2 separate regions of the Homo sapiens genome follow, and region 1 is linked to region 2. The links come from fine-mapping of genetic effects on gene expression. A gene starts in region 2. The other region holds a variant in brackets. All regions are shown on one strand. Distances are between the middles of the regions. Region 1 has its middle 17 kb from the start of MXD3. Region 2 holds the start of RAB24 (RAB24, member RAS oncogene family).

Evidence for each region. PIP is the estimated chance that this variant, and not a neighbour inherited with it, causes the effect. A credible set is the group of variants that fine-mapping cannot tell apart.
Region 1: its variant is the best candidate, but not a certain one, in a credible set for the expression of RAB24 in sigmoid colon (GTEx, PIP 0.84).

What each region holds. Positions count from the first base shown.
Region 1 is chr5:177,326,892-177,331,271 of GRCh38, forward strand. No RefSeq gene overlaps it. Among named protein-coding and RNA genes, the nearest start is that of MXD3, 17 kb to the left of the region's middle. RefSeq lists an enhancer at 1-188. The variant C/T (reference allele first, on the strand shown) is at 2,196.
Region 2 is chr5:177,301,963-177,306,342 of GRCh38, forward strand. RAB24 (RAB24, member RAS oncogene family) reads right to left here and starts at 1,757. Exons shown (of 8, transcript NM_001031677.4): 1 at 1,210-1,757; 2 at 1,047-1,115; 3 at 790-868; 4 at 615-682; 5 at 435-534; 6 at 166-216; 7 at 1-25. The coding sequence starts at 1,326. It overlaps PRELID1 (PRELI domain containing 1), which reads left to right and starts at 1,837. Exons shown (of 5, transcript NM_013237.4): 1 at 1,837-2,115; 2 at 2,663-2,888; 3 at 3,909-4,022; 4 at 4,136-4,214. The coding sequence starts at 2,024. It also overlaps a transcript of MXD3 not described here. RefSeq lists enhancers at 1-647, 1,812-2,689, 2,328-2,427, 2,538-2,587, 2,608-2,667 and 2 more and silencers at 1,648-1,717, 1,768-1,847, 1,958-2,097.

The DNA of each region.
Region 1 (4,380 bases), 25 kb after region 2:
AAAGAAAGAAAGAAAGAAAGAAAGAAAGAAAGAAAGAAAGAAAGAAAAGAAAGAAAGAAAGAAAGAAAGAAAGAAAGAAAAAGGCTGGACACAGCCACTCATGCCTGTAATCCCTGCACTTCAGGAGGATTGCTTGAACCTGGGCAACACAGTGAGACCCTGTTTCTACAGAAGTTTAAAAACTTAGGCCAGGCATGGTAGCTCGTGCCTGTAATCCCAGCACTTTGGGAGGCCGAGGCAGGCAGATCACCTGAGGTTGGGAGTTCGAGACCAGCCTGACCAACACGGAGAAACCCCGTCTCAACTAAAAATACAAAAAATTAGCCGATCCTGGTGGTGCATGCCTGTAATCCCAGCTACTCGGGAGGCTGAGGCAGAAGAATTGCTTGAACCCAGGAGGTGGAGGTTGCAGTGAGCTAAGATCAGGTCACTGCACTCCAGCCCAGGTGACAGAGCAAGACTCCGTCTTGAAAAACAAAAAAAACAAAACAAAAAACAGAAAATTTGGGCCGGGCGCAGTAACTCATGCCTGTAATCCCAGCACTTTAGGAGGCCAAGGCGGGTGGATCGCTTGAGCCCAGGAGTTCCAAGATCAACCTGGGCAGCATGGCAAGACCCCATTTCTATTAAAAAAAAAAAAAGTAAGAAAAGAAAAAACTGGAGCTATGGAGACATACAGAGGAAAGATGATCTGAAGATGGCCACGTTATGATGGAATCGGAGACTGGAGTGGTGTGTCTACGAGCCAAGGAACTCCCACGTCTGCTGAGAATGGCCAGAAGCCGGGAACAGGAAGGGAAGGGCTCTCCTCTACAGCCATCAGAGACAGCGCAGCTCTGCCAACACCCTGACTTGAGACTTCCGGCCTCTAGAACTGAGAGCCAATCACTTTCTGTTGTTCAAGCCCCTCAGTTTGTGGTCCTTTATGGCAGCCCTAGGAAACCAATGTAAGCACTATGTAACATACTTATTTCACCCGATCTCTCCACTAGACTATGAGCTCCATGGGGACAGAGATCTTTGTCCCTTTTGTCCTCTGTTGTATCCCCAGTGCCTAATGCCGTGTGTGGCACAGAATGGACTGTGACCATCAGCGGCAGTCTGGAGCAGACCTATACATGTCAGAAAACTCACCACACGGAGGGGATAAAGGCAGGGCTGCTTTTAGCCACAAAAGAACAGAAAACATGACTCACAGTAGTTTGAACAAATAGGCATTTTTTTTTTTAACATAAAACCCCTGCAGCTGGCAGTCCGGGCTGGGCAGCACCTCAGCCACGCCAAGGACTCTCCCTCCACCAGGCTCCGGGTGCTCCACTCAGCCCTTGTGGTCACACGGGGGGTTCTGCATGCCAGGGGTCCCTTCCACATTCCAGACAGGAAGACGGGAGCGGGCCCGGCCACACCAGCTGCTGTTAGATCTCCTCACCTGGGGAAACCCAGAGGAACTGGAGGCCCTCGTCGGCAGGCTCGGGCATCTGACCAGCCGCAGTGGGCACACGGCCGCCCTAGCTGGAAGGAGCCGGGAGCTCAGCCAAGTATATAGCCTTCCAGCCCGAGAGGGGAGGAAGCTGAGGGGCAGGGTTAGGAGCAGATGTGGCGTGGCCACCTGAGTGTGCGCCTCAGAGGGTGCAGAAGGACCCAGGGGTCGGTAAATGGTGCTGGAACTGGCTGGAGACAATTGGAAAAATGGATTCCCTACATCACACCCTACGCCAGCTTAACTCCACTTCGATTAAATGCCAAATTTGAAAAGCAAAATTTTAAAGCTTTTAAGCAAAAACAAAATCTTTAGAATAGATTATGAAATCACACTAAATTATAGGCTGTATATCAAATGACGTCATTGAAAAGCAAAAGCCCCCAGGCACACTGGAAGGTATGCGCCAAGGGCATATCACCAGAGGAGCCCCGCACAGGCACTCCTACACGGCCGGAAGAAAGGGCCCGGACTAAACCACCACACAGAAACACAGATGCCAATAAACGCACACACATCCCAACATGGCTAGCAGAGAAACAAACGAAAGCTTTTGCATCCACCTGTCAAAAATGGAAAGCTCTGACTATATCAGGTGCTGAGGGACAGAGGGGATCTCGGCAGGTGCCACCCCACTGTGGTCACGGCCCGATTTGGAGAGCAGCGAGGCACCCTCTAGTAAAACTGAAAATGGGCTGGGTGCGGTGGCTCACGC[C/T]TGTAATCCCAGCAGTTTGGGAAGCTGAGACGGGTGGATCACTTGAGGTCAGGAGTTCGAGACCAGCCTGGCCAACGTGATGAAACCCTTTCTCTACTAAAAATACAAAAATTAGCCAGGCATGGTGGTGCACACCTGTAGTCCCAGCTACTCGGGAGGCTGAGGCAGGAGAATCGCTTGAACCCAGGAAGCAGAGGTTGCAGTGAGCCAAGACTGTGCCACTGCACTCCAGCCTGGGCAACAGAGTTTAAGACTCTGTCTCAAAAATAAATAAATAAATAAATAAATAAATAAGACACATCCAGGAGTGCTTAGAGCAGTATCATGTAGCAGAGCAAAAGCCCTAAACCACCTCCAATCAGCAGCAGAATGGAGAAACTGGAGTCTGTTCATACCTCACAGTGAGAAACACCCATCTTGAGCCACATGTAATCCAAAGACTCACCAACCATGCTGAATTGCAAAAGTTGAGGAATACGTCCATGTACCACTTAGTCTTCAGAAATTCAAAACAATACAATGTATGTAGAGATACATATCCCTGTGGTAAAAATTTTCAGACAGACACAAAAAGTCAGATCCTGCAGCAATCACCTTTGGCAGGAGGAGACAGAGGGATCCAAGTGCGTCCGTGATATTTCTCACGTCGCACGGCAGGTCCATAGCCACACATTCACGTTTAACTTTTGTATGATGAAATACCTCAAATTTTTAGACACACATGGCAAAAACATAGACTATGGCATCACGGTCCTGCGTGTGTGAAATGCGGATGTCAGAATACACATCGATCGTTCTAGGGAAGCACCTCTAGGTATGAATTTTGAAACAATCAACTTTTCTTAGGTACAACAAGGCTATGTTCCAATGGAAAGGGGTGCCCACCGTGACAGCCAAGTAGAGACCGGCACGATCACTTTAACCCCTGCTGCCACAGCATGGGACCTTTAACACCTGCTGCCACAGCGTGGGACCTTTAACACCTGCTGCCACAGCGTGGGACCTTTAACACCTGCTGCCACAGCATGGGCCCTAACTCCGTCTTGTGCTCAAGCTTGGGTACCTGTTAAAACCACTGCAGGGGCTTTTGAAGCCACCCTTGCCCCAGCTCCACCTGACACACTCAGCCAGAACTGGAGAAGAAGGCAGGCTCTTCTCAGTTCTCCAGGGAACTCCAATACACAGCCAAGGCTGAGAACCATCTAGTATGGGACACTAATTGGCCTAGTAATTCAGGAATTCGGTGAAGACCAATTTAGAGCCAAAAATTAAAGGTGAAGCCTGGTGAGCGTGGTGCCGATGACGTGATTGTAGCAGCCGTGGAGAGCTCGTCTCTGGGCCTCGGCTCTACACACCTGGCCTAAAGCCCTCCAGCACCTGACAGGTGAGCGTCGTGGATGAAATGAGTTATGTGCCTCAATCGCTCCGAAGCAGGGCCTGTCATAAACACACGATCTGCTACCTTTTCAAGGAAAGGAACTGCTTTGGGAAAAGTGTTAATAAAATACTTCAATAAGGAGGATCATGATTACTCTTCAGGCTTCACGAACAGGCTCCCAAACCCGTGAAAGCAGCACAAACTCGAACCTCTCAGTCACTGTGTGGAATCTCTAGACGTCTAACCTGTTGAAGGAGGAAACACAGAGGACACGAGAGGCGGGTGACAGTGGACCAGTGAAGAGCTCTGGAGAATGAGAGACAGAGGGTAAAGTCCTTACTCTCACTCATGTCTCTCTATATTTTTTGCAATGATAATCTGTTTGATAGTGTTAATTACCAAAAGCCTGGCTGCTGAAAGGAGGGACGGCTGGCTTCTAAGGTGGGAGATTCAAATGCAACTGAACGGGGAGTGGGAAGGGGACGAGGAAGACAAGATCATCGGCTCAGCAAGGTGTCCAAGGAGGGCTAGAGTTGGGATCAGAGCCAGAGGGGTGGCTTGGGACGGGACGGGACATGCTGCTCCACGGCGCGAGGTGGAGGCAGCCACAGCTGGGGGCGACGATTATGGAAGCTGCCGGGGGTGGTGCCATGCCTTCAGCTGCTGCCTTTCCTCCACTCCCCGTTATCATCTTTGTCCCCTGAGGTGCCCCAAAGGGACTGCCACAACCACCCCCACCATCCTCCAGCCCCTTGCACATCATCCCAGAGCCCCCCGGAGTTCCCCGTCAGTGTACCCGCCTGCCCA
Region 2 (4,380 bases):
TCTGCCACTTTCTGGAAGAGCTCGTCTGGCAGGAAAAATGATGATCAGCGAGGGCCCAATGCCAGTAGCCCTGGGATCTCCCAGTGACCCAGCCCTCTGTGCCCTATTCAGCTTCCTCTGGTGCCCCTGCATGTTCCTGCTGTGAGGCTCCAGCACAGCACTCACCCACACTCTGGCCTGTCTTGCTGGATGTTTCAAAGAGCTGAGCTTTGATATCTGTAAAGAGAAGTGACTAAAGCCTCATACCTGAGAATTAGATAAACAGACAAAAGGGAGGGCTAGCAGTTCAGGGAGTCTCCTGGACCCCACAGTTCAAGGAGGCCAGGAAGACCTCCTAGAGCACCTTGCCCTGGCAGCCAAGGCAGTCCCTATTTTCTTTGATCCACCCAGACAGCCACACACCCCCACCCCCCAAAGGGCTGAGGAGCAGCTACTGTCTGCATAGTCCTGGACGTCGTGGAAGTCCACACGTCGACGCCTCCGGTCTTCTTCCAGCAGGTCACTCTTGGTGCCACATAAGTAGATTTGGCAGCCCTGAGGCAGAAGACAAGGGTCACCTCCACAGGCCAACAAAACCCCAGCCCCTAGTGTTCTAGTGAGGTCTGTTCACCTACCTCCTCTAGGCTGCGCAGTTCCTTCACCCAGAACTTTGCTCGCTCAAAGCTGCTGCTGTCTGTGAGGTCTTGGTGTGCGGCATGCAGGAGACAACCAAGTGGTCAAGGGCTGTTCTCTGGCTAGCCTGGCACCCATCTTTTCTTGTGAGACAGCCCAAACCCCCCCCCCCCTTACCATAGCAGACGATGGCAGCCTTGGCACCCCGATAGTAGATTCTACTCATGGCCTCATAGCGCTCAGAGCCTGCTGTGTCCTAAAGAGTAAGGCCTGAGTCAAACTTAAGGCCACGTTCTCCAGACCCCGCTATTTTCCAGATAAGGAAACGGGTCTATGAGAAATGGGTCTGTGAGGCCACAAATCAACCAGTAATAGGCAGGACCTACACCTCCTCAGGAATGAGTCTCCCAAGAATAGATGGCCGGGGGACTTACCCAAATACCTAATGTCACAGTCCGGTCTCCGACCGACATCACCTTGGCCACGAAGGCGGCCCCGATGGTCTGCAACGAGAGGGAAGAGATCGGGGCCATAGGTGCAGATTACCGGCCCCCCACTCCCCCGCCCACCGTGCCTGGCCCCTCCGGATGCACTCACGTTCTGATAAGGCCCCACCAGAAAGCGGTCGTGCACGTAGCGCTCCACCAGGCTAGTCTTGCCCACGTACTCCTTGCCCAGCATCACCACCTTGACGTCCACGCGCTGCCCGCTCATGCTCCCGGGGCCGCTTCAGCCACGTCAGGGTCCTGAGCGGGGACGGGAGGCAAACCCCGATCTCCGCTCGGCCCAGGCAGCGCCCAAGCCTCAGACCCCGACCCCAAACGGCGCCAACCTACGACTCCAGACAGCGCGTCGGGCTCGAGCTCTGGCCGTGGCCTTGCACTTCGGCAGCGCCCCGTGTGCCCCCGCTGTTCGGCCCCGGGCGCCGATTATCCTTCGAAGACCCCAAGCCTCGGGGCGGCCTGGGAGCGCGCGGGACAGCGTCCTCAACAGCGCAGCACGCCGCCGTGCAGCTCGCTACTCCGTCATTCGCTCGCCTGCCCGGCTTAAGCTCCGTTCTGGCTGGGAATCCCAACCGAACCTGGGGTCTCCCGCAACCCGGCTCCTACCCGCAGCGCCGCGACTCCCGCGGGAGGGGGCTAGAGGGCGAGGGGGCGGGGCCGCAAGGTCACGTGGCGCGGGCGCCGGAAGCGGTGGCTACTGTGTGGCTGCGCCGGAAGTGGCGCGCGGCCGGACAACTCATGGCGGCGGCGGCGGCGGCGGCAGCTGCTTGGGCGCGGTGCGGTGGTGACTGAGCTACGAGCCTGGCGGCGGGTGTGCGCCGAGCCCCGGCCCGGCCCGGCCCTCGCGTGCCTCCCAGGCTCCGCACCCCTGATGCTGCGCGGGTGCTGAGCCCGCTTCGGCCGGGACGATGGTGAAGTATTTCCTGGGCCAGAGCGTGCTCCGGAGTTCCTGGGACCAAGTGTTCGCCGCCTTCTGGCAGCGGTACCCGAATCCCTATAGGTACGTGGTATTTGGAAGAGCAAAACCGCGCCATCTCGCTATCTGGAGATCGAATTATGGGTAACCCCCAAGTACTGGGACCAGGAAGGACTCGATATCGAATCCTAGGTAGACCTTATCGGGGAAGCGGCCAGGCCAGGCCTGCAAGGTCCTGAAGGGAGGTTGGGCCTGGGTGGTGGTTTACTTGAGACCTTAGTGTAAGATTCTTTTCTCAGTGTGGTGAGACAAGAAGAGGCGGCAGTATGGGAGTTGGGAGGGATCTTGGAGTTGGAAATCCTATTTCTCTGCCCGTGGCGCTTTCCTGGGGTGCAATAAATCATGAGGTCCATTCCTGCTAGAAGGCAGGAATCCAGGTCAGTCAGATGGCGGGAGTGGGAATTTGCCCTGGGATGGGCCCTTAACTCTGGTTTGAACCATAGCACATACCACCCTGCAAGGTTACGGGAAGGCGTGGCCTCTCTAGGCCCGGAGCCTCCAAATGGGAATCCCCTCGGGCAGTCTCTTAGGGGCAAGCTTCTGAGGGTCACCTTCACCCTGACACCTGCAGCAAACATGTCTTGACGGAAGACATAGTACACCGGGAGGTGACCCCTGACCAGAAACTGCTGTCCCGGCGACTCCTGACCAAGACCAACAGGATGCCACGCTGGGCCGAGCGACTATTTCCTGCCAATGTTGCTCACTCGGTGTACGTCCTGGAGGACTCTATTGTGGACCCACAGAATCAGACCATGACTACCTTCACCTGGAACATCAACCACGCCCGGCTGATGGTGAGACACCTCCTGTTGTGATTCTGCACCTCCCCCTCTCCCCTCCCCCCGAGATAGAGAGCTCCTCAGATACATGTGGCTAGAGAGCCATAAGGCAGCTTTTGTGGCCGGAGGCAGGTCTGGGTTACTGAGGGTTGACAGCTGTAGAGTATGACCTCAGGTTTTCTTCTTTTCAGCTGGCCATCCTCTCTGGACCTGTCCTTTGACTCATTCATACAGTGGGGGAGGGGTACCTATCTTACGGAGTTGTCCTAAGTTCTAAATGCAAAGCGCTCCCATCTGGCATCTATGGCACAGATATATGTTGGACTCACAGGAGTGATGCTGAGTGGCGGAGGCAGTGCTTTTCTTTTTTTTTTTTCTGTTTTTTGTTTTTTTCTGGTGACAAGAGTCTCACCCAGGTTGGAGTGTAGTGACATGATCTCACCTCACTGCCACTGCCACCTCCTGGGTTTAAGCAATTCTCGTGCCTCAGCCTTCTGAAGAGGTGGATTTCTAAGCACACACCACCACGCCTGGCTAATTTTTGTATTTTTAGTACAGACAAGGTTTTACCATGTTGGCCAGGCTGGTCTCGAACTCCTAACCTCAAGTGATCCGCCCGCCTCGGCCTCCCAAAGTGCTAAGATTACAGGCGTGAGCCACCGCGCCGGGCAAATGTTTTTATTTGGACTGTCAGGAAGCTCCAGAGCTGCAGCTGGTGGAAGGCGGCTAAAACACTGCATGCGTCTAGATGCACAAAACAAAATCCAGGAGCAGGATGGGCTGGAAGGCCCTTTGTTGATCTCAAGAGAGAGACCTTTTGCCTTCTAGTTTAAGAGTCAGAAGAGAGGTTTTCGAGAGCAAAACGACCTTATTTATGGCTTCTTGTTCTGTCAGTGCCACTTGGAGGTGCAGTCAGGGGAAGGAATGGATTTTCATTGTATTGCTTCGCCTCATGAAAAGTGACAGGGAGTCAGATTTATGTGCAAGTTGGCAAAATGAAAGACTGTTCCACGATTGTGGTTGGCCTCTGCATAGGTGGTGGAGGAACGATGTGTTTACTGTGTGAACTCTGACAACAGTGGCTGGACTGAAATCCGCCGGGAAGCCTGGGTCTCCTCTAGCTTATTTGGTGTCTCCAGAGCTGTCCAGGTGAGCAGTGTTGTTGGGGCTGCTGGGGCTCTGGGACCCAGTGCTTTCGGTGTTGGGGCTGGGCTGGGGTCAGTGGGCAACTCAGTATCCTTCCCATTCTCATCTCATGCCAGGAATTTGGTCTTGCCCGATTCAAAAGCAACGTGACCAAGACTATGAAGGGTTTTGAATATATCTTGGCTAAGCTGCAAGGTGAGTTTCTGGGTATGTGGATATTCCTCATAGGGAGAGGCTCATTCAGCCTAGCGGGCGTGGAGTCTGGGTTAGTCATTGCCCTGCTCTGAGCTGGGACTCCTTGTCTGTACTGGGGGTGGGAGGAGGGTGAATACCACCTTTTTAGTGGAGCCTGGCCCAGAGG